7 linked regions of the Homo sapiens genome follow. The protein of the gene in region 7 purifies or fractionates together with the protein of the main gene of each other region. This does not show direct contact. Each region holds a gene or a part of one and is shown on either strand. Other genes may lie near its edges. The genes, in order: ERC1, MED1, MED20, MCM3, CCNC, MED23 and CDK19.

Region 1 (3,500 bases), on a different chromosome or scaffold from region 7:
ATTAGCCAGGCAAGGTGGCAAGCACCGGCAGTGTGGCTCACGCCTGTAATCCCAGCACTTTGGGAGGCCGAGGTGAGCAGATCACCTGAGGTCAGGAGTTTGAGACCAGCCTAGCCAACATGGTGAAACTCCATCTCTACTAAAAACAAAAATTAGCCAGGCGTGGTTGCCCATACCTGTAATCTCAGCTACTTGGGAGGCTGAGGCAGGAGAATCGCTTGAACCTGGGAGGTGCCGTGAGACGAGATCGCATCACTGCACTCCAGTCTGGGCAAAACTCCATCTCAAAAAAACAAACAAACAAAAAAGTTAATTAAAAATAAATAAATACACAAATAATGGCTTCAAGAAAGAATTCCTTCAAAAGGTAAGTTATATTCCTACAGTAAAATTATGTTTAAGGTCTGAATTTTATTTCTTGAGAAGTTTTTACAATTTCAGACACTTAATTTTTTTTGTTTTAAGACAGAATCTTGCTCTGTCACCAGGCTGGGTGCAATGGCGTGATTTTGGCTCACTGCAACCTGTGCGTCCCAGGTTCAAGCGATTCTCTCACCTCAGCTTCCCAAATAGCTAGGACTACAGGCACACACCACCACACCCAGCTAATTTTTGTATTTTTAGTAGAGACGGGGTTTCACCATGTTGGCCAGGATGGCAGAGACACTTAATTTAAGTTCACACAAATTTTCATCCCAAAATTTTCATCCCATTGGGTTATTTTTTTTTTTTTTTCTGAGACAGGGTCTCGCTCTGTCATCCAGACTGGAGTGCAGTGGTGTAATCCCAGTTCACTGCAACCTCCGCCTCCAGGGTTCAAGGAATTCTCATGCCTCAGCCTCCAGAGTGGCTGTGATTACAGGCGTGCACCACCACACCCAGCTAATTTTTTTATTTTTTAGTAGAGATGGGGTTTCGCCACGTTGCTCAGGCTGGTCTTGAACTCCTGGCCTCAAGTGATCCACCCACCTCAGTCTGCCAAAGTGCTAGGATTACAGGCGTGAGCCACTGTGCCTGGCCTGATTATCTTATTTCCATGCAAAAGGGCTTCCAAACATAAATGCATTAACAATGAGAAAAAATGAAACTAATATATACAAAAGGGCTGTCACATAAAAATTATCTATTCATCACTTAGCACACCATAATAAAGTTAAAAAGAATACAGGTGTTTAGTTTCATTCTTTGGTGAACAACTAAAAATGACTGTTCAAGAGTTGCCACCTTTCTGAAGCACAGCCCTGATCATGCATCTCCTACTCAGAAATCTTCAATAGCTACACACGCAGTATCTCAAGATTGGAAGGAATCTTAAAAATCACCTAGCGGGCTGGGCACAGTGGCTCACGCCTGTAATCCCAGCACTCTGGGAGGCCAAGACAGGCGGATCACCTGAGGTCAGGAGTTTGAGACCAGCCTGACCAACATGGAGAAATCCCGTCTCTACTAAAAATACAAAATTAGCTGGCCGTGGTGGTGCACGCCTATAATCCCATCTACTCGGGAGGCTGAGGCAGGGGAATCGTTTGAACCCGGGAGGCGGAGGTTGCACCATTGCACTCCAGCCTGGCGACAGAGTGAAACTCCATCTCAAAAAAAAAAAAAAAAAAAAATCACCTAGCACCAGGTTCAATGCTTGCAACCTGGCAGAGGATGCACTACCTCATAGAAACATTCACACCATCACTGAACAGCCATGGCTCTAGAAAAATAAAAAGCAATAGTAAAATGGAAGGTGGAGGAGAGGGAGAAATCAAGAACACCACACACATTTCCGGCTTAAGCACCCAGTGGTGTCATTTAACAAATTAAGAAACACCAGAGGAAGTGTAGGAATCATACATTCCGTTCTGGATGTGTTCGGTTTAAGGGGCATCCAAATGGAAACATTCAGTAGCAATTCGATAGAGTGGTCCTCAGACTCAGGAGAGAGGTAAAAACTGAAGACATAAAAATGAATACTCAGCACACAGATGAAAAATGAAATAGAAAGCGATGAGAAAGCCCAAAGAAATTCAAACATTTAATAAATGAGCACAGAAAGACTCAAAAGGTGACTGAGAGGCCAGGCACGGTGGCTCACGCCTATAATCCCAACACTTTGGGAGGCCAAGGCAGACAGATCACCTGAGGCCAGGAGTTCGAGACCAGCCTGGCCAACATGGTGAAACCCCATCTCTACTAAAAATACAAAAATTAGCTGGGTGTGGTGGTGCACACCTGTAATCCCAGCTACTCAAGAGGCTAAGGCAGGAGAATCACTTGAACCCAGGAGGCGGAGGTTGCAGTGAGCCAAGATTGTGCCACTGCACCCCAGCCTGGGCGATAGAGCAAGACTCTGCCTCAAAAAAAAAAAAAAAAAAAAAAAAGTGACAGAGAAAGAGCCCAGAGAACCAGCAAGAAAAACAGAAAAGTGCTCTGAAGACCTCAAGAGAAGAGAGAGCTTTACAAAGGAAGGAGGGGTATCCGCTCTGTCAAATGCTGCTGTGGTAGACAGTCCTGAAATGGCTATGAGTGATCTCTGCCTCCCAGCATTCATGCAATTGTGAAATCCTGCCTTGAGTGCACTGGACCTAGTGACTGGCTGATAACAGAATACAACAAAAGTGATACCACATCACTTCCAAGATAAGGTTACAAAAAGATTCTGGCTAATATCTGTCCTCTTTTGAAGACAGAAGCACTGAGATATCATATTTTAAGTAGTCGTACGCAGAAACCCAAATGGCAAGGGACTCACCTCTCCAGCAAGCAGCCAACAAGGACCTCAGGCCTGCCAATTGCCGCATGAGTGAGCTTGGAAACAGCCTCCCCAAGTAGCGCTTTGAGATGACTGCAGCCTTGTGAGAGACCCTGAATCATAGGTGCCAACTGCACCCACATTCCTGATCTACAAAATCTGTGAAACAATAAATGTTTCTTAAGTTAGGGGGTAATTTGTTATATAGCCAATAGAAACTAGCACAGCTGCTAAGAGGTTAAATAAGAACAGGATAGTAAAATAGACATTGGCTATTTTCATACATATTTTCACTAGCTATTTTCAGTTTCACTGAAATAATGGCGATAGAAACAAGACAGAAATAGGTTGAGAAGTCACAGGTGAAGAAATGGAGATACACAGCAAATGCAGAAAACTCTTAAGTGTGTAAAGCAGAGAGCAACTTAGAGCAATAAAGTATAAATCTGGAGTTTTTTATTAAGATGAAGAGACATTTTAAAGTTTAAATGATGATAACAAGCCAATAGGGTGGAAAAATACACTCTCATGGAACTTCATTCTTTTATCAAGAAACTCCTCTAAAAGTCTTCAACTTCCTTGGGAAATGTTCTTGCTACCTCTCTGCCTTAACTGAAAGCTGACTTTCCAATCAGGACACCTCTTCTCATATAGTCCTTTTAAGTGAAAGCTACTCAGTCTCTTCCACTCCACACCCAATACTGGGAAATGAGGCTGGTACCTTCCTTCCTGCCAGTGCCAGTTCCAGACCACTATTCCC
Region 2 (3,500 bases), on a different chromosome or scaffold from region 7:
TCCTCCCACCTCAGTGTCCCAAAGTGTTGGGATTACAGGCATGAGCCACTGTGCTGGGCCAGGAGATTCTTCTCATGGAAATAAAAATTGCTTTAGAAATGAGAAATTTTTAGTAGTTGGAGTAATAACATAGAGCATATATGTTCAAAGTTGTGGCACTTCTGTTTCATGTGTTAAAATGCCTTAAGAAGTCTCCAGATAGCTTTAGGGCATTTAAAAATGAGTTTTCATAAGGCAGTTATGGAGCTAATCCTATAGAGAGGCATGCTTTTTACAAAGAAAGTATATGATCCTTGTGTCTAGGCTGCTAGCACATCTGGCATAAGAACATATGATGATGGCTAGATATATGTGGAATAAATACATTATTTTAGATTATAGCCTCTATATCTCTGCTTGCCAAACTATGGGCTGCACATCTAACAGCTGCAAACACTTGATAGAAAGCAGAGTTTATGGCAGTGGTTCTGGATATCTGCTTATCAAGTAGAATGAGACACTCGGCCACTTTTATTTTCAGAATTCACTTTTACATTTTAGGGATTAAGTTTCTTCATCTTGGAAAATTGAAAGTCTAGCTACTTTTGTTCTGGAGAAATTTATAACAAACTGGCAGGTTCCTTGGAATCTGATTCCTTCTGTCATCTGTGGATGACATATAGTAGGTTTTGTATGTGAAAAAAGTGTGCGATTTAGTTTCCAAGGAGGGAGAGAGAATTTCAGTCTGTACATTTAAGGAATGTTATTTGTGTGAAGTCTTTTTTTTTTTTTTTTGAGACAGAGTGTTGCTCTGTTTCCCAGGCTGGGGTTCAGTGACATGATCTCGGCTCACTGCAACCCTTGCCTCCCAGGTTGAAACGATTCTCCTGTCTCAGCCCTCTGAGTAGCTAGGATTACAGGTGTGCGCCACCACACCCGGCTAATTTTTTTTTTTTTTTTTTTTTTTTTTGAGATGGAGTCTTACTCTTGCCCAGGCTGGAGTGCAGTGGCACGATCTCAGCTCACTACAACCTCCGCCTCCTAGGTTCAAGTGATTCTCCTGCCTCAGCCTCCCGAGTAGCTGGGATTACAGGCATGTGCCACCACGCCCGACTAATTTTGTATTTTGTATTTTTAGTAGAGATGGGGTTTGTCCATGTTGGTCAGGCTTGTCTCGAACTCCTGACCTCAGGTGATGAGCCCACCTCAGCCTCTCAAAGTTCTGGGATTACAGGCCTGAGCCACTGCATCCGGCCTCTTTTTTTTATTTTTTAGTGGAGTTGGGGTTTCGCCATGTTGGCCAGGCTGGTCTTGAACTCCTGACCTCAGGTAATCCACCTGCCTTGGCCTCCCAAACTGCTGGGATTACAGGCGTGAGCCACCGTGCCCAGCCTGTGTGAAGTCTTATATTTGGTTGTTTTATGATCTTTCTCTTTGCCTTTTAGATTCTCCTGGGCTTCTCCAATTTGAAGTGTGTCCTCTCTCAGAGTCTCGTTTCAGCGTATCTTTTCAGCACCCTGTGAATGACTCCCTGGTGTGTGGTGAGTTGTGTGGGTGGCTAACACCTCTCATGGAGCGGTTTGGTCCCTATGTCTTTTTTGGAAAAGTCAGAAGCTAAATCTAAAACAATTTCCTATGTATTTTGTCTTTCAGTGGTAATGGATGTGCAGGACTCAACACATGTGAGCTGTAAACTCTACAAAGGGCTGTCGGATGCACTGATCTGCACAGATGACTTCATTGCCAAAGTTGTTCAAAGGTAGCCTTGGCCCTTTTTCATCTGAGTCCCATTTAGAGATGTATAAAGAATGTTGTTGAGTAGGGCGCGGTGGCTCACGCCTGTAATCCCCACACTTTGGGAGGCCGAGGCAGGCGGATCACGAGGTCAGAAGATTGAGACCATTCTGGCTAACATGGTGAACCCCCATCTCTACTAAAAATACAAAAATTAGTCAGGCGCGATGGCGGGCACATGTAGTACCAGCTACTCGGGAGGCTGATGCAGAAGAATAACTTGAACCTGGGAGGTGGAGGTTGCAGTGAGCCAAGATTGCGCCATTGCACTCCAGCCTGACGACAGAGCAAGACTCCGTGTTTTTGTTTTTGTTGTAAAAAAAAAAAAAAAAAAAAAAAAAAAAAAAAAAAAAAAAGGCCGGGCCTGGTGGCTCACGCCTGTAATCCCAGCACTTTGGGAGGTGAAGGCGGGTGGATCACGAGGTCAGGAGATTGAGACCATCCTGGCTAACACAGTGAAACCCCGTCTCTATTAAAAATACAAAAAATTAGCCCGGCATGGTGGCGGGCGCCTGTAGTCCCAGCTACTAGGGAGGCTGAGGCAGGAGAATGGCATGATCCCGGGAGGTGGAGCTTGCAGTGAGCCGAGATCATGCCACTGTACTCCAGCCTGGGCAACAGAGTGAGACTCTGTCTCAAAAAAAAAAAAAAATGTTGTTTTCAGAATTAGCATGAATTTCAAATAAAGGAGCAATTTAGTTATTGCTTTGATTTCACCCTTCTCTGCTTTCGGATTCAAAGTAATCTAAGCTTTGTTTTTTTTTTTTGAGATGGAGTCTTGCTCTGATGCCCAGATTGTACAGTGGTACAATCTTGGCTCACTGCAACCTCTGCCTCCCGGGTTCAAGTGATTCTCCTGCCTCACCCTCCTGAGTAGCTAGGATTACAGGCATGTGCTACCACACCTGACTCATTTTTGTATTTTTAGTAGAGACGGGGTTTCACCATGTTGGCCAGGCTGGTCTCGAACTCCTGACCTCAGGTGATCTGCCTGCCTTGGCCTCCCAAAGTTCTGGGATTACAGGCGTGAGCCACTGCACACAGCCAGCTTTGTTTTTTTTTTTTTTTTTTTTTTTTTAATGATATTACTATGAGAGTAATGGGAAGTAAAGTAGGTAACTTCAGGCCTGGAATTATGGTACTTTAAGGCAGGAGAAAGCCATAATAAAATACAGATATTTTTCTTACCTATCCTGTGTGCCAATTCTTCATAGATGTGACATTTTTATCTTTTTATTCTTTTATTTTTTTATTTTGAGACAAGAGTCTCACTCTGTTACCCAGGCTGGAGTGCAGTGGTGTGATGACGGCTCACTGAAGTGTTGACCTCCGAGGTTCAGGTTATCCTTCCACCTAGACCTCCTGAGTAGCTGGTACTGCAGGTGTGAGCCACTGTGTCTGCCTGAGCAGATTTCACAACTTAAATGTTAGGCTGGGCGTGGCAGTGCATGCCTGTAATCCAGCACTTTGGGAGGCCAAGGCGGGCAGATTACTTGAGGTCAGGAGTTCGAGACCAGCCTGGCCAACATGTTGAGATGTCATCTCTATAAAAATACGAAAATTAACCGAGCATGGTGGTATCCGTCTGTCATTCTAGCTACTTGAGAGGCTGAGGCAGGAGAATCACTTGAACCTGGGAATCGGAGGTTGCGGTGAGCCAAGATTGCGCCACTGTTCTTTAGCCTGGGTGATAGAGTGAGATTCTGTCTCAAAACAAACAAACTAAC
Region 3 (4,113 bases), about 69 Mb from region 7:
AGAGGTCAACACTCCCTCCCTAGTGAGAAAACATCAGACGTCTTTCAATTCATCTCTCTCGCTCTTTGGCTGCTAAACAATGTGTTTTCTGCTCATAACACTTCCCATTCGTTTTTCAGTTCTCAGCTTAAAGGTCCTGCTGCAATCGGAGAAGCTTCTCAAGACCAATGCTATTGTTACCAGGGAAACGATACTTTATCATGGAAATATATTATTCTAAGAGTCTACTTAATTGCCTCTCTGCTGGGCTTGACTGTAAGGTCCTTAAGTTAGACGTGCCTGTGTTGTTTACTTCTGTACCCAAACATTCGATAGAATTCCGAGCATAGCGCAAAGCTCGTAGTGGGTATCCCATAAATATTTACAAAACCAATGGATACATGCTAGGAGCACTTAGTGGCGCGATCGATTACTGTTGGCCTAACTTCGGGGGTGTCTAGAAGGGAGTGCCTAAAACTAGGAGTGGACGCGGAGGGCTCTAGACAGGGTTCAGTCTCCTTTGCAAGTGTAATACGGACCCCTTTGTTGACTCGAAGCAATTCCCCTGCCAGACACTTTTTAGCTGCCCACCCCGCCCCACTACTGGCCACTGTCTTCCTCGGACCTCATCCCAGACACTCACCCAGCCGCGTGGTGCGTTCCCGCGGCGCCGCGGGCTTGTCCCCAGTCCCATGCTCGGCCTCGAGTTCCTCCTGTTGCTGCCGTGCTTGCTGCAAAATCCGTCGGCTCAGCCGGGGCCCCACATACTCTTCCTCCGCTTCTCCTGTCCCGCGACCCCGCCGCTTCTCCCGGACCCCCGCCCGCACCGCATTCCCAGCCAGGATCTGATCGGCCAGGGGCGCATGTTTTTCCTGACCCCCCACCCCACGGGCCGCCTTGAATTTGGGCATTTTTCTCGAAAAAGTTGCCGGGAAGGATCGCACGTGGGGACTGAAGAAAGGCCAGGATGCGCTTGCGCGGTGGACTCCCAGCGCCCAAGAGGCCGCCCGGCGATCACAGCGCCCCCTAGCATTCGGAGGCCAGAAGCGCCATCAGCGCCGCCCCTCCCACTAAAAGAGCTCCCGGGTTCCGGAGCTGGACTCCCGAATATATTCACTGCCTTTAACGTTAGCTTCTCTCAATAGTGCAGTCTTTGAGTGTCGCTCTCCTAGCTTCATGGATGTAGGCCTAGAGTGCTCAGCCAAACGGGAATGTCTGGATTTAGAAACCTCGGGGCGGGAATCCGCAGATGATGTCAGTGGAGGCGTCACCGAGGGGTGCCGAGACACGCCCCATTCCTTGGGGAAGGCGTGGACCCGGCGCTCTGTTTTTACGTATTTCCGGAGTCCCTTCTGAGACAGAAGGTTGTGTTGGGGAACTGAAGGAGTTTCTGTGGGCGGACAGGGAACCCTGCGTTTCTACTGTGTGATTCTGCCACCTTCCTGGCCCGACGCCATGGGAGTGACTTGGTAGGACTGCAGGGGGTTTTGTGGGGCGGGGCTTGGAGTTGTGAAAGGCCGGAAAGAGGACCTTGACCATGGTCCGCCGTCCTCTGGGAGCTGAGGGAGATGTCCTCGGGTTGTGTAGATGAGAGGATGCCGTCCGGGCTGCGGGTTCCCCGGGCTTGTTTCCTCAGAGATGCGCCCCTTCCTCTTGGAAGGCGGGAAAGCAAAGGTTTTTTTTTTGTTTTGTTTTGTTTTTTTTAAGACGGGGTCTCGCTCTGTCGCCAGACTGGAGTGCAGTGGAGCGATCTTGGCTCACTGCAACACTCCGCCTCTTGGGTTCAAGCGATTCTCCTGTAGTCCCGAGTAGCTGGGACTACAGGCGCCCGCCACCACGCCCGGTTACTTTTTGTATTTTTAGTAGAAATGGGGTTTCACCATATTGGCCACGCTGGTGTCGACAAAGCAAACTTTTTATCCCAGGAACCTATCAATGGTTGTATACCTCATTCTCTTCTGGATACATCTTCCTTCCCGTGAGGCCATAGTACTGCCTGCAGTGGGACCTCAGGGTTGGAAATAGGGTCTTTGGACTATGACCCACCTGCAGACAGGGTTGGAGGGAGTGGGCCATAAGCAATCAGGAGATAGTATTTTTTAAGATTTTCGCCTGCTCTTCCCTCAGCCATCAAATACAGTTAGACCCGCTTGTGTCTGTTTCTAATTTGCTCATTTTAAGATCTTGGGTCTAGAGGAAAAAAGGGTATTGATAATAAGGAGATCATGGTTCCAGGCACTTTATCTCTTTAGGACCCGTTTCCCACTATGTTTAATTCCATGGTTGGTCTAGTTTCAATGGAGTTTTTATCTTTCATATGTTTTAAGTCTCAGTTGAAAGAAGATGAGGTGGCAGGGAAAGGTATGGGTCCAGTGCTCGTGGAGGCGTTAGTTGTAAGGTGCCAGGTCCCAGAACATTTTTTTCTTATCTCAGTAGATGTGAGCATTTTTCCCGTGGGAGAAATCCGGAGGCCAGGATATTTGAAGCCAGTGGATATAGGCTTCTCATACAAAAGCATGTGTAGGGGAAATACTTTTCCTCCTGGTAGCCCAGGTTCTTGCAGGTTTCTCAGTGATTGCACTCTTGCTTCCTACGATTGACACGATCCTCCTGTGTTCCTTAATGGAAGCAAGATATGTGAGGAATGGAAATGGAAAGGATGCAGCGTAGAACCCTGGAACCCTTGCTCTTTCTTTTTTTTAAAGAAATAGAAATGGGGTCTTGCTGTTTTGTACATGCAGGTCTTGAATTCCTGAACTCAAGCGAGCCTCCTGCTTTGGTCTCCCAAAGTATTGGCATTATAGACATGAGCCACCGTGCCCAGCCACCCCTGCTCTTTAAATGGAGAAGGCAGCTCCAGGGAAAGGGCTCTCTGTTGGCCCCCTTATCAACGTTTTCAGAATCCTAGGACTTCTGTCACTTGTAGCGTCAGTTTAGGGATTCTTTTGTATTTCAAAATAAGGCACATTAGCAACATCGTTTATCAGTGTTTTTTTCTGATAGAGTAGTGACAATTTTTAGCAACAGAAGGACTCTACCTTAATAGATTCATTTAGTTGATCATAAAGCAATGTCATCTATGACTGTTTTCTTGATTTCTATATAGCTAAGTACTGCTTGTACTATTGTTTATTAATTTTTTAATCGATTTTCCTTAATGTTTTAACAGGCACTACATCCTTATACAGGCAGTCTAGTTAGTGGTTAAGAGCATGGACATCAAGCCAGGTTGCTGGGCTTTGAGTCTTGAGTGTACCACCCATTAACTGTGTGACCTAGTGCAAGTTATTTAACCTCTTTGTGCTGTACTTAAGTTTCCTCTTTTTTTTTTTTTTTTTTTTTTTTGAGGCAGAGTCTCACTCTGTTGCCCAGGCTGGAGTGCAGTGGCGTGATCTCGGCTCACTGCAAGCTCCGCCTCCCGGGTTCATGCCATTCTCCTGCCTCAGCCTCCCGAGTAGCTGGGACTACAGGCGCCCACCACCATGCCTGGCTAATTTTTTTGTATTTTTTTTTTTTTTTTGAGACGGAGTCTCGCTCTGTCGCCCAGGCCGGACTGCGGACTGCAGTGGCGCAATCTCGGCTCACTGCAAGCTCCGCTTCCCGGGTTCACGCCATTCTCCTGCCTCAGCCTCCCGAGTAGCTGGGACTACAGGCGCCCGCCACCGCGCCCGGCTAATTTTTTGTATTTTTAGTAGAGACGGGGTTTCACCTTGTTAGCCAGGATGGTCTCGATCTCCTGACCTCATGATCCACCCGCCTCGGCCTCCCAAAGTGCTGGGATTACAGGCGTGAGCCACCGCGCCCGGCCATTTTTTTGTATTTTTGGTAGAGACGGGGTTTCACCGTGTTAGCCAGGATGGTCTTGATCTCCTGACCTCGTGATCTGCCCGCCTTGGCCTCCCAAAGTGCTGGGATTACAGGCGTGAGCCACCGTGCCTGGCCAAGTTTCGTCTTTTTTTTTTTCTTTTTGAGATGGAGTTTCGCTCTTGTTGTCCAGGCTGGAGGGCAGTGGTGCGATCTTGGCTCACTGCAACCTCCGCCTCCTGGTTTCAAGTGATTCTCCTGCCTCAGCCTCCCATGTAGCTGGGATTACAGGCGCACACCACCATGCCTGGCTAAGTTTTGTATTTTTGG
Region 4 (3,500 bases), about 58 Mb from region 7:
AAAGATTAAACCTCTAAACAAGTTTTGGAATCCAGGCTGCTCTGTGCCTACTCTGATAATGGCCTGATAGTGTAATTTGTCTTAGAAAATAATTTTTTGCAGTTAGGAACAATGTACCTGTTTGTGTGTTTCTTCAAGTATTTTCTTTTTTTTTTTTTTTTTTTTTTTTTTTGGTGAGACGGAATCTTGCTCTGTGACCGAGGCTGGAGTGCAATGGTGCGATCTCTGCTCACTGCAACCTCCGCCTCTTGGGTTTAAGTGATTCTCCTGCCTCAGCCTCCCAAGTAGCTGGGATTACAGGCGCACACCACCACGCCTGGCTAATTTTTTGTATTTTTAGTAGAGATGGGGTTTCACCATGTTGGCCAGGCTGGTCTCGAACTCCTGACCTCGTGATCTGCCTGCCTCGGCCTCCCAAAGTGCTAGGATTACAGACCTGAGCCACTGCGCCTGGCCCTCTTCAAGTATTTTCTATAGGCCAAAGTATATAAAGTGGAGCTCCACAAAGTCCCATTGAATCTCACTAGGCTTGCCATTGGTTATTTCTCCTGTAGGATATCTTTGACCAGCTGGCCAAGTCATTGGCCCCAAGTATCCATGGGCATGACTATGTCAAGAAAGCAATCCTCTGCTTGCTCTTGGGAGGGGTGGAACGAGACCTAGAAAATGGCAGCCACATCCGTGGGGACATCAATATTCTTCTAATAGGTACGATGTTGGGGATTTGCTTTAGACTGTTGTTCTGATGGAGTGGTTGTGGAGACCTATAATATGTAAGATTGTATATTCTGTACTTAGCAGTATTTCAGTCCTATCAAAGGACAAAAGGCTAAAATGAATCTTTTTTTTTTTTGTCATCTCTGGAATTCCTGATTTATAGTATATAAATATTCTTCCGTGAGTGGTGAAGGGAAAAGCGAAGGAAAAATATTAAAATCCACTTACTGTGTGACTCTGTTGTGTCAAGAGCTGTGCTAGAAAGGCAGAATTTGCTGGGGGTGCTGGGGAGTTTCCTAGAGAGTCATCACTGCCCCCACCCTACAGGAGACCCATCCGTTGCCAAGTCTCAGCTTCTGCGGTATGTGCTTTGCACTGCACCCCGAGCTATCCCCACCACTGGCCGGGGCTCCTCTGGAGTGGGTCTGACGGCTGCTGTCACCACAGACCAGGAAACAGGTAAGGGTGTAAGGGTCCTTGGCAAAGGCCCAGCAGAGAGCCTGAGCATAGATCCTTTGTGTGCCCTGGCTTGTGTTCTGAAGATACAGCTGATAGGTTAGTTGGGTCCAGATTATAGAGGACTGAGTATTCAGCAATGGTGGGTGAATTATTTAAGTCTTTGGTGTTCATCTATTTACAGGAATGTTTTCGATTTAAAGGATTAAGTCTTAGCACATTAGAAAGGAAATAAAAATGAAGATTGTACTATTTTATGAACTAGAGGAAGGGATTTGGAGACCAGTGAAGAGAAGGCAGAGGTCTAGTTGGGGTATTACTTGAGGTTGAGGCCGAAGAGAGAATCTATGAAGGAAATTTGTGAGAAGCTAGTTACTTAGGGGTCAAAGTGGGACAAAGAGATACTATTAATATTTAGATTAGAGCTGAAAAGGTGACCCACCAGGGTTTCCTCTAAGTTTCTCGGAGCCAACACACCATTGCCGCATTCTCACGTGCAAAGTGAGAGATTCCTAGGAAGGAGATTGAAATCCTTCCCTTCTGGCCCCTATAACCTAGACTGTAGCACGTATTTTTACCTTCTCACTTCCCAGGAGAGCGCCGTCTGGAAGCAGGGGCCATGGTCCTGGCTGACCGAGGCGTGGTTTGCATTGATGAATTTGACAAAATGTCTGACATGGATCGCACAGCCATCCATGAAGTGATGGAGCAGGGTCGAGTGACCATTGCCAAGGCTGGCATCCATGCTCGGCTGAATGCCCGCTGCAGTGTTTTGGCAGCTGCCAACCCTGTCTACGGCAGGGTAAGTGGAATCAGGCCCCAACCATTGTCCTCACCTTCATTTGGTTTTGCTGACTAACTGGGCTGAGAAGTGTATTCTAGGTGACCCAGGGGAATAATAGGCCAAAGACTAAAAGTAAGGCCATTTTCTTGTTATTGTCCTTTGTTTAGAGCAGTGTTCCTCACCCATTCCTGCACAGCAGAATCCCCTGGAAAGTTCCTTATTTAAAAGTAACTTTTTAACAGTACAGTTAAACAGTCCATTTAACATATTTAACCGTCCATTAAATAAAAGGACTACATGCATGTGGCGGGAGAATTTCTAAACAGAACAGGTATATAGTATGAAAACGAAAAGACTTGCTTCTCTCTCCTGTCACTTTGCCAAGAAATAACAGCTTTGAAGTGTTGCAGGAAACAAAACTTTAAGCATGTACCAGCAAATACACTATTTCCTTGTTAAGAATTATCTCTGTTTTTACCATGACTGTGATGTGCTAGATATAATCTTTTATATTTGTCTGTGCGTGGGGTTTGTTGAGTTTTTCCTTTTAAAAAAATAGATTTCTAGTATTCCGTCACAGGGATGTATTTAACTAGTCTCCATCTGATGGGTATTTAGTGGTTTCCATTTTTTCCTCCCTATTTTGAATGAAGCTGTAGTGGCCATCCCTTTATGTGTGTGGATAGATTTGGGAATATATCTGTAGTATAAATACCTAGCAAGGAAATTACTGGATTAAGAGTTATGTGCATTTTTCTTTTGGTAGAGATTGCAAAATTACCCTCTTTAAAGATTGTACCATATTAATACTTCTATTAATGAATGCTCATAAATGCTTTGTATTTACCAACTCCTTTTATCCTATCAGTAACTACCTCACAATGTGTAGTTATCTTTATTTTACAGATGAGAAAATGGAGGTACAAAAGATTATGTAACTTGCTCAAGAGCCACAAACTTGAAAATCGCAGAGCCAGGATTTGAGCCCAGAGCTCATGCTGTGTCCTGGCAGTTTATAATCAATCCCACAGTGTATGGGAACACCTTGTTGCGATGCGATGGTGTTTTTTATACATACAGTTGCATGGTCCCCCGTTCAGAGTTTCTGAATTAAAATCTCTTGAGTTGGAGCTCTTGGTAGCTATGGTTTAGAAGGGCTCCACAGGTTTGGTTTTAATGTGTAGCCAAGGTTGAAAACCATAGCTTTTAAAATTAATGATAGGGCTGGGCGCAGTGTCTCATGCCTGTAATCCTAGCACTTTGGGAGGCTGAGGTGGGAGGATCACTTGAGCCTAGGAGTTTGAGACCAACCTAGGCAATATAGTGAGACCTCATCTTTAAAAGTAAAATAAAATAAAATAAATGATAATGTATGTTTATGTCATTCTCAAGAGTGATTGGGAAATACAAGAAAAATGGCAGGACCTGAAACGTGAACATGGTCAAAATCATTATTACCTAAAGGTTGTTATGTTCTCTGACTGTGAAGTGTATGTGGATGGGTAAGTATCAGTCCAGTAGGCCCAGAATTGAAAGGAGAGTA
Region 5 (3,500 bases), about 11 Mb from region 7:
AAGCACTGTACTCTAGTTGATAAAGTTATTACCCATGGGTGTACAAGTTAACAATTCTGATAATGCTATACATGTATATGGGAATTAAACAATTACGTAAATCAATAGCAAATGTTTGAGAGCCGGGTTTCTCATTGTTGGAGCGGGAATTTACAGATAAGCAAAGGGCTGGAAACAGCATGAACTCGTGTACCTTAATACAATATAGATGGTTAGTTACATATAGAAATATTTATAGATAAGTGTATATACATGGGTTAGTGTGTGTATTTCTTGGCTTTCTCAGCTGAAAGGGTCTATAAGCAATGACATCCCAGTAGCAATGAGCTCACCTAGTACCCATATCTTGGTTTCTAATATCATTCTCCAATAAAAGGTACCAGGGCTCCTTGGAGAAATGGTTGATTCTAGGACTGGGGCAAGAAATACACAAGATGGACCTGGACCATCTCTTAATGCCAGTAATAAAGAAGTATTCAAAACAAACAAGAAAAACAAAAACGTCTATTGATGAGGATATGTCAAAAGGATATAGGAGCTAACTAAGAGAGCTCCCACTGACCAAAGCTGAAAGAATTTGAGCATCAAAATTTTAAAAATAGCATTGGATAATAACTCAAAGTATAAACTAAATATCCATGAGTCCATACTGATATAAATAAATGAGGGAGAAGAGACATGTCTTCCATGCTGAAGAATTCCAAATAATATATGTAACTATTCTGCCCTCAAGTAGAGGGAGCATAACTCCCCACTCCTAAGGTGCTGGCTATACATGTTAACTTCCTGCTAGTGTGTACATATGGAAAGGGAGGAAAAAGGTAACTTTACAGTGGGGAAACCTGAGAAATACTGCCTTAGCCAGGCGATCAAGGTCAGTAGCAACAGTGATAAATCACATTAATATCATGTATCATTGATGTGATATGATGAAGATGGTACTTTATCTCGGTGGTCTTCCTGTCAAAAACCCATTTTCTCTAGTCTAATGAGAAAAACATCAGACAAATTCCAGTAGAGGGGCATTTGACAAAATACTTGACTGGTACTCCTAAAAACTGTCAAAGTCATCAAAAACAAGGAAAGGCTAGAAAACTGTCACAGCCAAACAGTCTAAGGAAACATGACAAATAAATATAATGTGGTATCCTAGATAAGACCCTAGGATAGAAAAAGGACATTGGTACAAACTAAGGAGATCTGAAAAAAGTACAGTTTAGTTAATAATAACATTTCAATATTGGGTCAGTAATTGTAACAAATGCGCCATACTAATGTAAGATGTTAATAGTAGGGGAAGCTGGGTGAAGGCATGTCTTAGTCCACTTGGGCTAATATAAGAAAGTACCATAGACTGGGTGGCTTTCACAACAGACATTTATTTCTCACAGTTCTGGAGGCTGGGAAGTCAATAACGGTGGGTATAAGAGAACTGTGCATGATCTCAGTGTTTGAGTCTACAAAAATAAAAGGCAGAGGAATATAATTAGGTAGAGTTTGTTTTGCTTTTTTCAAGGGAAATTTGAGCATATTAGTATGTGATGGAAGATTTACTGAAGGAGGAAGGTTAAAGATGAAAAAAATAGCAGGAGTTATCAATTGAATAGATGATAATAAGTGTATAAGTGGTAAGACAAACAATAGAGAGGAGGGATGTATTTTTCTCCAAGTTGGAGGAAAAGGATTAAAAGACAGAAAAAAATGCAGAGCAGTTTTAGCATGGAGTAACAGACATGTGACAGTATCAGGTAAATATATTCTCAATAGAGGTGTTAGGTGTCAAGGTCCAGGGGATGGGGATGTAGATTTGTTTTATATACAGAGATAATTTTACTTTGTTGATTGTCTACCATTATATAAGAACCTGTTGTGCTGGTATACTTTACATCACAAGGATTTGTAAAACTCAGAAACCTTAATAGGTACGTCTTAAATTTAAATAAAGGAGAGAAGAAAGGAAAGATTATAAATTTACTAATGTCAAGTTTAAATTATTCTAGGTTTCAAATCCTGGCAGATATTACACATCTAAATTAGCTGTAGGGCACTGAATTTGCAAAACAAATCTTTTTGAAAACATAGTGCATAGAAGAAATGGAATTTCTTTCTTTTTTTTTTTTTGAGATGGAGTCTCACTGTCACCCAGACTGGAGTGCAGTGGTGTGTTCTCAGCTCACTGCACCCTCTGCCTCCCGGGTTCAAGGGATTCTCCTGCCTCGGCCTCCCGAGTAGCCGGGACTACAGGTGCATGCCACTACACTCGCCTAATTTTTGTATTTTTAGTAGAGATGGGGTTTCACCATGTTGTCCAGGAGGTCTCGAACTCCTGACCTCAGGTGATCCACCCACCTTGGCCTCCCAAAGTGCTGGGATTACAGGCATGAGCCACTGTGCCTGGCCAGAAATGGAATTTCTTTTAATTTCAGTGAAATCACTTGGGCTTTGTACAAATGGAAGCTGACACTAAACATTTTTTAGGACCTGTCAGTAGTTACTTGGTTGAATTAAATGTGTCATAATGGCTTGAATACAGTTTCTCAAATAGTACTTATGTGTATATGCTCACACCATTTTAAGGAGATGGGGGATTGATGGTTAACATTTTTTTTTCATTTGTACTTTATTTAGTGACTAACCAATAAAGTAATAGATAATAGAGTACTAACTTTATGTGTTACTACTACTACTTTATGAGTAACTCGAGACCTTTGCATATATATTAATGCTTTTATTAAAATATATATTTTGATAAATACCTGGTCATTGTAAAAAGTTTAGAAAGTGCAGATTAGTAAAAAGTTCTTAAATCTCACAAATAACCACTGTTAACATTTTTTTGGTGTACTATCCTCCCAATATTTTATATGTATATTTTTTACCAATTGTATATATTGTAAACACATATGTAACCCCTGTGTTCCTTCTAAGCTCAGTCACTGGAAAACAGAAGAATACCATTCTGTAGCTGAAAAGATTTTAGAAATGATAAAAGCCAGTGATTTTTTTTTCCTGATCTTTTTCTTTTTTAAACATCAGAATCCTTTCTTAAGGTAGTAAATATAAAATTGAAGCTGTGTAGAGTGTCCTGCCCCCCAGTCTTTCCCCTTCCCTGAAAGTAAATAAAAATCTGCGTCCGTAAGTGTTGCCAAGAATTCCTACTGAAAATAATTTTGCTCTACCCTCTAATATTCTGCTCTGTTAAAGGAATTTTGAGTTAATTTATTTCCCATTTTCTCAGTTTAAATTTTTTTTTTATTTTCTGCAGTAAAAACTAGATTTTCATATGCCTTTCCAAAGGAATTTCCTTATAGGATGAATCATGTAAGTATATGATATAAAATGGAACAATTATCAAAGCTATATATAAACTAGCTCTATTTTATATTAGACTAAATTTAATAGTTTCCTAGAAATGGCAGTTTCAAATATTACATAAATACAGACATTATTCTAAATTAAAGCTAAATAGCTTTTACCATTTAAAAAAAATACTTCATAGT
Region 6 (3,500 bases), about 21 Mb from region 7:
GAGGCGGGCAGAACACGAGGTCAGGAGATTGAGCCCATCCTGGCTAACACGGTGAAACCCCATCTCTACTAAAAATACAAAAAATTAGCCGGGTGTGGTGGTGGGCACCTGTAGTCCCAGCTACTTGGGAGGCTGAGGCAGGATAATGGCGTGAACCCGGAAGGCAGAGCTTGCAGTGAGCCAACATCACGCCACTGCACTCCAGCCTGGGCGACAGAGAAAGACTCCATATCAAAAAAAAAAAAAAAAAAAAAAGAAAAAAAAAATTCTGCTGGAAATAGACATCAAAGTCAGGAGAAGAAAAAAACATTTGGGGAATGTTTGTTACCAAAGTGTACAGAAATGGTTATATTCGCACTCTGTAAAGAAACACAGTGACTTACTGCTACTTCCTCCCTCTAGTGGGAGTTTTGGAGAATCAACTCAGGGTCTAATTGCTCATATTTTCAAAGTATCACAAGGCTAGGACCACATCTATTTTATTTACTTCTGTACCTTCTATACATAGAACACAGTTGATATTCAATATGTACTTATTAAATGAATGAATAAGGAAATTGGGGCTGGAAGCAGTAGCTCACGCCTGTAATCCCAGCACTTTGGGAAGCTGAAGAGGGAGGATTGCTTCAGCCCAGGAGTTCGAGACCAGCCTGGGCAACATGGAGAAACCCCATCTCTATAAAAAAGTTAAAAAGAAAAAAAACTAGCTGGGTATGGTAGCATATGCCTGTACTCCCAGCTACTCAGGAGGCTGAGGCAGGAGGAGATTGCTTGAGACCAGGAGGTTGAGGCTGCAGTGAGCCATGATCACGCCACTGCACTGGGCGACAGAGCGAGACCCTGTCTCAAAAAACAAACAAAAAAACAAAAACAAACAAAAACAGAAATTGGAAAATTTCCGGCTCTTTAGGGAAGTGACAGCAATGCTTGATATAGTATAAATTCATTAAATCCTTCAAAGCAATATAGAGCAGATTGGCATAACATATATTAGTCATACATCTTGATCTAAGAGAATAAGCTTAGAAATGTATTTATTCTTACCAGGCAGAGAATTAATCTGTCCAGTGTAACAATGTTATACTTCCATACCATGTCATTAAGAATTTCAATGCATTTATTGAGTTGCTGACCCCCTGCTGATGTAGAAAACTCATATACCAGGAAATCTGCAAATGTCCTCACATGGGCTACCAAGGCCCTGGCTCCAATTCTCTCTAATACTCTGGAAGGCAGAGAGTAAAACATAAACTCCATTGTTGTATGGATACAACAATTTGCCAAATGGAATGCAAATTAGGTTTTTGACTTACCTATAGCCAATCTGATTAATATGATCTGTTTCCAAGAGCATTTTCCAGAGAAGACAAAGAAAGAGAGGAGGGGAGCCCTGCATAGAGAAGTGGGTAATAATGTCGTTTTCGTTGCTCATTGACTTCCACTTCCTATACTCCTCCTCCACATTTTTTTTCAGATTAAAACGGCTTTCCTGAGGCACATTATTTTGTTTGAAGAATGCCTAAAAAGAGGATTAGAAGTTTATTTCATTGGTTATAGTAGAAAGAGCACTGGATATGGAGTTAATAAACCAGTTCTAGACTTGATTCTGACACTAATAAACTCTAGGTCACCTTGAGCAACTCAGCAATTAAGGCCTGAATTTCTGTGTCTGGAAAATACATAAGCTTGACTAGATTATCTCCAAGATTCCTTTTCCTAGATTTCCTAAATGGAAATTCTAAGTAAGCCTGAATTCAAAGCTTCTTCAATCATCTGTTGATACTTCCGCCAATCTTAAAAAGAAAAAAAAGAATGAAGTGTCTCTACCCTTTGGCTACATATGTTAGTGTCTTTGAGGAAAATCCATTGCACTAGCCCAGTGATTCTCAGAGTGTGGTCCCAACACCAGCGGTATCAGCATCATCTGGGTCTTACAAGAAATGCAAAATTCTCAGACCTTATCCCAGATTTACTGAATCAGAAGCTCTGTGGCTGGGGGCCCAGCCAACTGCAGCTTAGCAAGCCCTCCAGGTGATTTGGTAAGTTTAAAAACCAAATGCTCTAGCCCTACCAGGAGTTATGAAAAATGGATGTTCATCATGCCTAACATTTTTTCTGAAAAGGAGAAGACAGATGAGGTTTGCCTTTCTCCTTATTAGAAAAGCCAGGTTTACAGTTTTTCTGTGATTAAGAAAAAAATTCAGTGAAGTGTCATATTACGCACACTCTGTGAAGCTCCATTACGTTATACTTCTCCCCATTTCAGTTCTATGAGAGAGAAAAAAGTTTTCAGGTACTATGTTAATTTTCATGAGATTCTAAAACCATTAACTATTTTTTTCTCTTTTTCAATTTTTTTCACTTTTATTTTTTTCCTCTTTCTACTCTTCCTCCCCTTAAAACTGTTAACTAAGATGAAACCATAATAATTAAATTTTTAGAAACATGTCCAGTACCAGAGTAGGACACAGAACAACTTGAGAGATTTTGTAAGTAATGACTTTTTTTTTTTTTTCTACAGACAGGGTCTGGCTCTGTCACCCAGGCTGTGGTACAGTGGTGTGACCATAGTTCCTTGTGAACCTGAATTCCTGGGCTCAAGCCATCCCCCTTGCCTCAGCCTCTCAAGCAGTTAAGACTAGAGGCTTGTGCCACCATGCCCAGCCCCTAAATATTTTTTAAAATAAATAAAAGCTAATTTTATTCAGAAGTCACCAAGACTCACTCTAGAACACCATTGTGAATGGGAAGAAGGATTTCATGTGCATTCAATAAGTAATTCAAGACCAAATTACCTGTAGTGGGCCTGGAAAACAGCTCAGGGTGTGTGAAGCCCAATTATGAGGAGTGAAACTCATGATGGTCTGAAGTATGTCTTTACACCAAGTTCCCTGAATTGAATCAGAGCCTGTAAAAAAATCTAAACATAAACAAATAGATGTAATCCAGATATAAATGATTATATCCACAATTCATAAAAGATTATAGCGAAAATAATAATTATGTACACTGAGAATTTCACTGCAGTGCATTCACTGCTTAACTAGTTATATTCAGCTTAGAACCTAAATTTGCTTAGTTTATGAATGATCTGGATGATCACATTAGAAAATATGAGAACAGTTTATGAAAAGATGACAAAAGACATTTGAAATCTCTTTTTTTGAGGTTACAGAGTACCAGCGATAACAGTAATACAAGCCCATCACTACTGTTCATTTACTTTGACACTGATTTAGTAGTACTTTATTCGGCCAAGGGAACAGAATAAAGAAAGATATCTTTTTTGGTGAGTGAAATAATTACATAATGCATGTATAAATCTCAGAATTGAAGAGGGTTCTTTATGTAAAACAAAATAATTTACATAAACGTATTTGAGGTTGCTAAAACCAATAACTATCTCTTTAAAACATCAGTTCTCAAGTGTGGTCTGTAGACCTCTTGGGGATTCCCCAATAGCCCTTCAAAGATTCAATGAGGTCAAATAATAATAAAAA
Region 7 (3,496 bases):
TCTTGAACTCCTGACCTCAGGTGATCTGCCCAGCTCAGCCTCCCAAAGTGCTGGGATTACAGGTGTGAGCCACTGTGCCTAGCCACAACTGAGTTGTTTTTAACCAAAACTACCTTAGTGCCCTGTTATCTTGGACCAGATATTCCAAGTCGTTTGGCAGCCTTTGAGCACTGAGCAGGAGGACCTTGCTGATCTGTTCTTTCCTAAACCCCCAGTGCCACCTCAAGATAATTTACATGTTTAACTCAAAGTGTAACCGCCCGACAGGTTCTTCTTGCTCGCTGCCCAGATAGAGCCAATTTATCAAGACAGGAATTTCAATAGAGAAAGTTTAATACACATAGGGCCAGCTAAATGGGACATCAGAGTTTTATTATCAGCCTCCTCAAAATTTGGAGGCTAGGATTTTTCAAAGATACTTTGGTGGGCAGGGGTCTAGGGAATGACTACTGCTGCTTGGTTGGGGATGCAATCAAAGGGGTGTGAAAAATGGTCTTCCTGTGCTGAGTCCACTTCTGGGTGGGGGCCACAGGACTGGTTGAGTCATGAGTCTCAGTCTGGGTGGAGTCATCCGAAATGCAAAAGTCTGAAAAGCCTTCTGAAAAGGTTGACAATAGTGATGTTATTTACAGGAGTAATTGGGGAGTAGCCAATTGACCTCCAGAACAATGACTGGTAATTGTTTAACTGCACCTACATCTTAGCAGAATTCAGGCCTCTCTCATAATCCTAAACTTGTGGCCTTTTAGTAGTTTTATAAAGGCAGTTTAGTTTTGGGATGGACTATTGTCGTTTAAACTATAAACTAAATTTCTCCCAAAGTTAGCTTGGCCCATGCCCAGCAATGACCAAGAACAGTTTGGAGGTTAAAGGCAAGATGGAGTGGGTTAAATCAGATCTCTTTCACTGTCATAATTTTCTTGCTGTTTAATTTTTGCTAAGGAAGTTTCAAAAGTAATAGCTTTATTACATATATTCTTTCCCACTTTGCTTACAAGAAAAACCAGCCTTCTGAATATAGCCAAAGATACTACTTCCAGCTATGCTTGTCTCTTACATACTGTTCTTATTCTATAGATGATTTTTCCTTTTACACATTTTTTTTGTATTTGCGTTAGGTACTATGAAGATGAAGGTTTCATTTAATGTAATAAAAATACATTGAATTGAAATGCATTTTTCTGTCTTCTCTTGAAGACAATCATATGTGAAAATTGCTTTATTCTAAATGTTACCTGAAGTTTATAAAACCCACATGTTGCTGCCGCACCCCACCTAATCTTGCCTTACTTTGTCTCGTAGGTAGAACTCCTGATACCCCTAGCTTCTACCTCTGAAAACCCTTTGCTCTAAAATAATGATTTCTTAATCACAGCTTTGTTATTTATAATGGGAAAAATAATAGCATGTCAGTATACATTATGAATACTATTGATTTCAGTATGCCAAATTGATTATTCTTGTTTGCACGTCTCAGTTATGCAAAGGATTGTTACACCCCAGAATTGGAATAAAGAGAAATGGGTCCGCTGAAATTTCCCCTTTTCCTTTCTTTCCAGTGTAGCTTATCTCCCACAAAAATCTAGCCAAATTTCATGCCTGCCAGAATGTGTGGTTACAGTGGTGGCAGGCTGTGATTTCAAATAAGCAAAATGTGTTAACAACTTAAGTTAGCTGTCAGCTATGTGTGTCTGAACCAGGAACCTAATGAAAACGGCTTATATCTCTATCCTACTGTGATGAGCATCTTGAGTCATCCTCTTCCTCCATCAGTAATTCCCTTTTCCTGTTTCCTTCTCCTAGCACTCCAGTTCTCGCCTGAATTACCAAAGCAGCGTTCAGGGATCCTCTCAGTCCCAGAGCACACTTGGCTACTCTTCCTCGTCTCAGCAGAGCTCACAGTACCACCCATCTCACCAGGCCCACCGGTACTGACCAGCTCCCGTTGGGCCAGGCCAGCCCAGCCCAGAGCACAGGCTCCAGCAATATGTCTGCATTGAAAAGAACCAAAAAAATGCAAACTATGATGCCATTTAAAACTCATACACATGGGAGGAAAACCTTATATACTGAGCATTGTGCAGGACTGATAGCTCTTCTTTATTGACTTAAAGAAGATTCTTGTGAAGTTTCCCCAGCACCCCTTCCCTGCATGTGTTCCATTGTGACTTCTCTGATAAAGCGTCTGATCTAATCCCAGCACTTCTGTAACCTTCAGCATTTCTTTGAAGGATTTCCTGGTGCACCTTTCTCATGCTGTAGCAATCACTATGGTTTATCTTTTCAAAGCTCTTTTAATAGGATTTTAATGTTTTAGAAACAGGATTCCAGTGGTGTATAGTTTTATACTTCATGAACTGATTTAGCAACACAGGTAAAAATGCACCTTTTAAAGCACTACGTTTTCACAGACAATAACTGTTCTGCTCATGGAAGTCTTAAACAGAAACTGTTACTGTCCCAAAGTACTTTACTATTACGTTCGTATTTATCTAGTTTCAGGGAAGGTCTAATAAAAAGACAAGCGGTGGGACAGAGGGAACCTACAACCAAAAACTGCCTAGATCTTTGCAGTTATGTGCTTTATGCCACGAAGAACTGAAGTATGTGGTAATTTTTATAGAATCATTCATATGGAACTGAGTTCCCAGCATCATCTTATTCTGAATAGCATTCAGTAATTAAGAATTACAATTTTAACCTTCATGTAGCTAAGTCTACCTTAAAAAGGGTTTCAAGAGCTTTGTACAGTCTCGATGGCCCACACCAAAACGCTGAAGAGAGTAACAACTGCACTAGGATTTCTGTAAGGAGTAATTTTGATCAAAAGACGTGTTACTTCCCTTTGAAGGAAAAGTTTTTAGTGTGTATTGTACATAAAGTCGGCTTCTCTAAAGAACCATTGGTTTCTTCACATCTGGGTCTGCGTGAGTAACTTTCTTGCATAATCAAGGTTACTCAAGTAGAAGCCTGAAAATTAATCTGCTTTTAAAATAAAGAGCAGTGTTCTCCATTCGTATTTGTATTAGATATAGAGTGACTATTTTTAAAGCATGTTAAAAATTTAGGTTTTATTCATGTTTAAAGTATGTATTATGTATGCATAATTTTGCTGTTGTTACTGAAACTTAATTCTATCAAGAATCTTTTTCATTGCACTGAATGATTTCTTTTGCCCCTAGGAGAAAACTTAATAATTGTGCCTAAAAACTATGGGCGGATAGTATAAGACTATACTAGACAAAGTGAATATTTGCATTTCCATTATCTATGAATTAGTGGCTGAGTTCTTTCTTAGCTGCTTTAAGGAGCCCCTCACTCCCCAGAGTCAAAAGGAAATGTAAAAACTTAGAGCTCCCATTGTAATGTAAGGGGCAAGAAATTTGTGTTCTTCTGAATGCTACTAGCAGCACCAGCCTTGTTTTAAATGTTTTCTTGAGCTAGAAGAAATAGCTGATTATTGTATATGCAAATTACATGCATTTTTAAAAACTAT

Evidence for each region.
Region 1: the proteins of CDK19 (region 7) and ERC1 purify together in Homo sapiens (affinity purification with mass spectrometry; 2 studies listed by BioGRID and IntAct, with this or other methods). This does not show direct contact.
Region 2: the proteins of CDK19 (region 7) and MED1 purify together in Homo sapiens (affinity purification with mass spectrometry; 9 studies listed by BioGRID and IntAct, with this or other methods). This does not show direct contact.
Region 3: the proteins of CDK19 (region 7) and MED20 purify together in Homo sapiens (affinity purification with mass spectrometry; 7 studies listed by BioGRID and IntAct, with this or other methods). This does not show direct contact.
Region 4: the proteins of CDK19 (region 7) and MCM3 purify together in Homo sapiens (affinity purification with mass spectrometry; one large-scale study listed by BioGRID and IntAct). This does not show direct contact.
Region 5: the proteins of CDK19 (region 7) and CCNC purify together in Homo sapiens (affinity purification with mass spectrometry; 10 studies listed by BioGRID and IntAct, with this or other methods). This does not show direct contact.
Region 6: the proteins of CDK19 (region 7) and MED23 purify together in Homo sapiens (affinity purification with mass spectrometry; 7 studies listed by BioGRID and IntAct, with this or other methods). This does not show direct contact.

Annotation. Positions count from the first base shown.
Region 1 is NC_000012.12:997,723-1,001,222, reverse strand, and holds part of ERC1 (ELKS/Rab6-interacting/CAST family member 1), read right to left. Parts: intron 1-3,500. UniProt on the Homo sapiens protein: Regulatory subunit of the IKK complex. Probably recruits IkappaBalpha/NFKBIA to the complex. May be involved in the organization of the cytomatrix at the nerve terminals active zone (CAZ) which regulates neurotransmitter release.
Region 2 is NC_000017.11:39,413,264-39,416,763, reverse strand, and holds part of MED1 (mediator of RNA polymerase II transcription subunit 1), read left to right. Parts: intron 1-1,424; coding exon 1,425-1,520; intron 1,521-1,632; coding exon 1,633-1,738; intron 1,739-3,500. UniProt on the Homo sapiens protein: Component of the Mediator complex, a coactivator involved in the regulated transcription of nearly all RNA polymerase II-dependent genes.
Region 3 is NC_000006.12:41,918,340-41,922,452, reverse strand, and holds the start of MED20 (mediator of RNA polymerase II transcription subunit 20), read left to right. Parts: upstream 1-1,313; 5' UTR 1,314-1,434; coding exon 1,435-1,448; intron 1,449-1,509; exon of another isoform or gene 1,510-1,653; intron 1,654-4,113. Other genes in the region: BYSL (bystin), read right to left, coding at 623-890. UniProt on the Homo sapiens protein: Component of the Mediator complex, a coactivator involved in the regulated transcription of nearly all RNA polymerase II-dependent genes.
Region 4 is NC_000006.12:52,274,743-52,278,242, reverse strand, and holds part of MCM3 (DNA replication licensing factor MCM3), read left to right. Parts: intron 1-554; coding exon 555-708; intron 709-1,044; coding exon 1,045-1,176; intron 1,177-1,766; coding exon 1,767-1,975; intron 1,976-3,500. UniProt on the Homo sapiens protein: Acts as a component of the MCM2-7 complex (MCM complex) which is the replicative helicase essential for 'once per cell cycle' DNA replication initiation and elongation in eukaryotic cells.
Region 5 is NC_000006.12:99,551,661-99,555,160, reverse strand, and holds part of CCNC (cyclin-C), read left to right. Parts: intron 1-1,359; exon of another isoform or gene 1,360-3,265; coding exon 3,266-3,321; exon of another isoform or gene 3,322-3,500. UniProt on the Homo sapiens protein: Component of the Mediator complex, a coactivator involved in regulated gene transcription of nearly all RNA polymerase II-dependent genes.
Region 6 is NC_000006.12:131,597,243-131,600,742, forward strand, and holds part of MED23 (mediator of RNA polymerase II transcription subunit 23), read right to left. Parts: intron 2,921-3,500; coding exon 2,796-2,920; intron 2,269-2,795; coding exon of another isoform or gene 2,263-2,268; exon of another isoform or gene 2,225-2,262; intron 1,520-2,224; coding exon 1,314-1,519; intron 1,226-1,313; coding exon 1,045-1,225; intron 1-1,044. UniProt on the Homo sapiens protein: Required for transcriptional activation subsequent to the assembly of the pre-initiation complex. Component of the Mediator complex, a coactivator involved in the regulated transcription of nearly all RNA polymerase II-dependent genes.
Region 7 is NC_000006.12:110,612,974-110,616,469, reverse strand, and holds part of CDK19 (cyclin-dependent kinase 19), read left to right. Parts: intron 1-1,803; coding exon 1,804-1,935; 3' UTR 1,936-3,496.